Linked DNA regions of Homo sapiens: region 2 is linked to region 1. Evidence: fine-mapped expression QTL. Tissue or cell type: whole blood. Region 1 holds a variant in brackets; the other region holds the start of a gene. All regions are shown on one strand. Distances are from middle to middle.

Evidence for each region. PIP is the estimated chance that this variant, and not a neighbour inherited with it, causes the effect.
Region 2: it holds the start of RAB43, and the variant in region 1 is fine-mapped to the expression of RAB43 in whole blood (TOPMed, PIP above 0.99).

What each region holds. Positions count from the first base shown.
Region 1 is chr3:129,029,300-129,032,051 of GRCh38, forward strand. EFCC1 (EF-hand and coiled-coil domain containing 1) reads left to right here. Exons shown (of 8, transcript NM_001377500.1): 3 at 1,404-1,561. Among named protein-coding and RNA genes, the nearest start is that of EFCC1, 29 kb to the left of the region's middle. The variant G/GT (reference allele first, on the strand shown) is at 1,146.
Region 2 is chr3:129,120,640-129,123,139 of GRCh38, forward strand. RAB43 (RAB43, member RAS oncogene family) reads right to left here and starts at 1,165. Exons shown (of 3, transcript NM_198490.3): 1 at 647-1,165. The coding sequence starts at 850. All of the region lies in intron 11 of ISY1-RAB43 (ISY1-RAB43 readthrough), which reads right to left. RefSeq lists an enhancer at 1-194 and silencers at 975-1,154, 1,175-1,394.

The sequences.
Region 1 (2,752 bases):
AGGGAAATGGAAAATGAATATTCAAAAGGTCAGGCCCTTAAAATATCAAGAAAAGTGATTGGTGGGGTGTAATGTAGGTTCCCCAAAGCCCAGAGAAGGGAGATGTTTCAATTAAAGGCTTTCGGGGGCAAGGAACAGAAATGCAATTTAAACTAGTTGGGTGTGGTGACTCACATCTGAAATCCCAGTGCTTTTGGAGGCCAAGGCGCTGGAGGATCTCTTAAGACCAGGAGTTTGAGAACAGCCTGGGCAACACAGTGAGATTCTGTTGTTTTTTGTTTTTTGGTTTTTTTTTTGAGATGGAGTCTGGCTCTGTTGCCCAGGCTGGAGTGCAGTGGTAGATCTCGGCTCACTGCAGCCTCCACCTCCTGGGCTCCCAGGTTCAAGCGATTCTCCTGCCTCAGCCTCCCAAGTAGCTGGGATTACAGGTGTGTGCCACCACACCCAGCTAATTTTTATATTTTTAGTGGAGACAGGGTTTCACCATGTTGGCCAGGCTGGTCTCGAACTCCTGACCTCAGGTCATCCACCCGCCTCTGCCTCTCATAGTGCTAGGATTACAGGATTCTGTCTCTATTTAAAAAATTAAAAAAAAAAAAAGTAGGCTAGGTGCAGTGGCTCATGGCTGTAATCCCAACACTTTGTGAGGCCGAGGCAGGCAGATTGCCTGAGCTCAGGAGTTCGAGACCAGCGGAAGCAACATGGCAAAACCCTGTCCCCACAAAAAAATACAAAAATTAGCTGGGTGTGGTGGCGCATACCTGTAGTCCCAGCTAATTGTGGGGCTGAAGTGGGAGGATCGCTTGAGCCCGGGAGGTTTGGCTGCAGTGAGCCAAGATCATGCCACAGCACTCCAGCCTGGGTGACATAGAGACCCTATCTCTTAAAAACAAACAAACAAACAAAAAGTAGCTGAAACAATGAAAACTTTTTTTAAAATTCCCCTATAATAAGAAGTACAGAGATGGGTGGCCCTAGGGCTGATGAACTCAACAGCTAAAAGACATTAAGGCTTTTGTTCAGCTATTCAGTAATTCTCTCAGACATTTTTTCATGTCACAAGATGGCTGCTGCAGCTCCAAACATCACATTCTCACATGACAATGTCTAAAGGCAGGAAGGAAGGGGCATTTCTTTTCCTAGAG[G/GT]TTTTTTTTTATAAGGATGAAAATCCGTTGCAGAAGATTTTGCCTTGAGTCCCATTGGCTAAAACTGGGTTCCATGCCTGTGCCCTAGCTGCAAGGGATGCTGGGAATCTGAGTATCTAGCACTTCCTCCTGGACTGTGGGAAGCTGACTCTGCCAGGGTGACAATGGGTGTTCATAGACAGCTTGCCCATGTACAGTGGGGAATGGAAGAGTCCTGTACTCTCCTCCTCAATGCCTGTGTCTCTCCCACGGCTGCAGGTCAGAGGATTCCCAGCTCCCAACCCCGCAGCTAGCCAACCCAGAGCCAGGAGACAAGAGTAATGAACCTGAAGATGCTGGGACCAGAGACCCAGACCCCACTCCAGAGGGAGCCTGGCAGTCAGACAGCAGCTCTGGAAGCAGAGCCCTGGATGAAGGTTTGTCCCCTGTGCGCCCAGTCTTCCTGCCAGGCTCACAGTCCCTCCGGCTGTGCTCAGCCCTGCTCTCAAGGGCCTGTCTGCATCCATGCTACCACCAGCCTCCAAACAGAGCCCACTCCCACCAGGTGCTCAGGCTGGGCTGGGGCCCTTTTCCCCAGCCCCATCATCCTAAGAACCTGGGCCTAGAGAATCTGGGGTGTGTAGAGCCATCAGGAGGTCAGGATACACTGAGATGTTCCCAAACTTGCCAGGTGGCCAGGGTCACCTTTAAAAGCATGGATGCAGGCTGGATGTGGTAGCTCACGCCTGTGATCCCAGCACTTTGAGAGGCTGAGGCGGGTAGACTGCTTGAGCTCAGGGGTTCGAAACCAGCCTGGCAACATGGCAAAAGCTGGTCTCTACCAAAAATACAAACAAATTAGCCCAGTGTGGTGGCACATGCCTATAGTCCCAGCTACTCGGAGGGGGAGTGGGGGCTGAGGCAGAAGGATCACTTGAGCCTGGGAGGTAGAGGCTGCAGTGAGCCAAGATTGTGCCAGTGCACTCCAGCCTAGGTGACAGAGTGGGGCCCTGCCCCCCTAAAGAAAAAAGAAAAACATGGATGCCCAGGCCCACCCCGGATCTCTGCATGTGATTCTCTGGGGTGGTGGGGGTGGGGTCATAAGCCTGGTTTTGTTTTTAAACAGCTGTATCAGTTAGGACATCGTTTGTCTCCCAGTGTCAGATCATTCAGCCCAAACCGGCTTAAGTTAAAAGAGAATGTATTGGTTCACATAACTTAAAAAGTCCACACAAGCTTCAGGCACAGCTGAAGTGTCAGCAGCGCAGCTGTCTGGACCCCTGGCCCTGCGTTGCTCTACAGTGATTCACTTCACAGCAGGCACTCCCCTCATAGTGGCAAGATGGTCACCAGTGGCTCCAGGCCTGGTCCTCTCAACTCCCAAGCCAGAAGCATGGAGGGCATTTCTCTTCCCTGCAAGTTTTGAGTCCAAGTCTTGGGTTAACTCCAGTGGCTCCCACTGGGTCCCTTGCCCTTCCTGAACTAGTTGCAGAGGAGGCTGCACTCAGCCTGGCCGGGCCTGACTCAAGTGCCCCTGGAGCTGGGTGGAGAGGAAGAGGAGGGAGTGGGACTCCCCTGGGGACGGGGATGGGGACTGAGGTTGGGCAGCAGAACACCAGGGGGCCACA
Region 2 (2,500 bases), 91 kb after region 1:
CCGGTATCTGTGAAGTTTTCAGTTTCTATCAAACTCCAGCTGGGGGAGGGAACCGGGGCTGGCCCTAGTCGAGTAAAGTTCCACCACCAGGTCCACAAAGAGACTGCAGGGAGGCGTGGCCAGGCCGGAAATTCTGACAAAAAGTTTTGGCCCTCTGGTCCTAAAAGCAACTACTTCCTGATCGCTCCTAGTCCTGGGGTGGGGATGCAGTTCTCTGGCTGAGTGCCCCGCCGGTGGGCTGAGCTGGGGGCTGCCATCGCGGTGGATGGAGGTGGGGGGTCTGATCTCCGCACTCCAAGGCGCTCCGCTAGTACCTGGAACAGGGGAGTCTAACCCCCTGCCTTCCAATGGCTAAAGTTATTTTGGAGCACAGTCCCCTCCTAGGGTGTGAGCTCCGGAGGGCAGGGCCGCCTCCTCCACACTCCCTCGCCCCCCCCCCCCCCAGCAACCCACGGCCGGCGCTTTGAGGACTTGAACCCGGCCCAGACCCCGGGGCCCAGGCCTGCTCCGACCCGAGGAAGGAAAAAGGGGAAGCCAAAGGAAACTTCAGATGGACGCGGGGTGCGCTCGCCGCGGCCAGGGGCTCCGCTGCCCCCGCCCCACCCTCCGAGGGAGCGCCTTCCAGGGGCCCTGGCCGGCCTCCCACCTTGACCCGCTTGCCCTGGATCTCCAGCGTCTTCATGGTGAAGTCGACGCCGATGGTGCTTCCCTGGCGCTCCGAGAAGGCGCCGGTCTTGAAGCGCTGCACCACGCACGTCTTGCCCACGCTTGCGTCGCCCACCAGCACCAGCTTGAACAGGAAATCGTACTGCTCGTCCGGGTCCCCCGGGCCTGGGCCCGGCCCTGCCATGGCCTAGAAGAAGCCGAAGGGCCGGCGCTCTGGACGCTGGGACCGGCCTGAGCTCACGCAAGCCGCGGGCCGAGCTCCGCCCGCTCCAGCCCACGGGCCGCCTGGCTACGTGGAGCCGCCGCAACACCTGAACCCCCAGCACTGCCGACCGCCTGCCTCGGCCTCGGCCCCGCCCCACCCCGGCTGGCTCCCGCCCCGGCCCGGCTCGGCCCCGCCCGGACCCGGTGCCCCGCGGGTTCGGCTCCCCCCCGGACCCGCCAAGCCGGGCCCTCCGCAAAGCTCCGGCCGGTCCTCAGCTCCGTGCCACACCAGTCTGGCCTGTAGGCCCGCCCCAGCCCGCCCCCGCCCGCCCCCGGCTCCGCCCTCAGGCTGGCACCCACTCCGCCCCCAGCCCAACCCTCGGGCCCACCTCAGCCCGACCCGGGTTCCGCCTACGTCCCCGCCCCCGACTCCGCCCTCAGCTCCGACCTCGACTCCGCCCCCAGGCCCACCTCAGCGCGCCCCGACTCCGACCCGACTCTGCCCTCAGCCCGACCTCGACTCCGCCCACAGGACCACCTCAGCCCGCCCCGACTCCGCCCTCAGCCCGAACTCGACTCCGTCCCCAGCTCCGACCTCGACTCTGCCTTCAGGCCCACCTCAGCCCTCCCCGACTCCGCCTTCAGCCCGACCTCGACTCCGCCCTCAGGCCCACCTCAGCACACCGCCCCGACTCCGCCCACAGGCCCACCTCAGCCCGCCCCGACTCCGCCCTCAGGCTCACCTCAGCTCTGACTCCGCCCCACCCGACTCCGCCCTCAGCCCCGACCCCAGCCCGACCCCGCCCTCAGCACCTCGGCCCCTCCTCCATCAACACCCCGGCGCGCCCACACCGCGGATCCGTCTGGCCCCCAAACCGCTGCCCACCCCGACCCTTCATCAGCTGGGACCCCCAGGTGCTGTCCCGCGCCTCCTGCTCGCCCCCCACCCAGGCCTGGTCCGCCTGCCCGGGATCCCCTACCTGCTGCCTCCCAGACCGCCGGTCAGGGACAGGCGGAGACCATGGCTGGAGCTCCGGGCCTGCAGGCCTAGACTAAGAATGACCCCCTCCGGAATGGATCACGGAGGAAGGGGACGACCACAGCAGTGTCACCTGAGTGCCCACTCTGACAGGCGGGCAGTGCAGTCTCCGAGAGTGGTGGGGGTCGCTCTTCCCAGGGGCGGAAGGGAAGGGAGGGAGCAGGCTGCAGAAGGCCAGAATCCAGGCTGGCTACAAAACTGCGGAGGAGCCCAAAATCCTTGTGAGGAGAGGACCCAGGGCCCCATTTGATGGGAAGCTAGGCCAGAAGGAGGAGCTGGGAGCTCTTGTCTCCAAAAGGCAGCCTAGCAGTGGTTGAAGCAGCTGCTAAACGGCTGGATGACCCAGCTCAGAGCAGCTACAGGCCCATTTGGGAAACTGACCCAGCCAAAAAGCACCAGTCTAGGAAGAGGAACAGAAAAACTTGAAGGGATTTCTGAGGAAGGGCAGACCAACTCCTGAGTTGGCCCAGTGAACCAGGGCGCCTCAGAGAAAGGAGACCCAAACATCTGTAAGAAGCTTATACTAGATCCAACAGGACTGGGCTTCCCAGCTCCGAAGATGGGAAGGAATTGACAGCACCCCTTACCCCT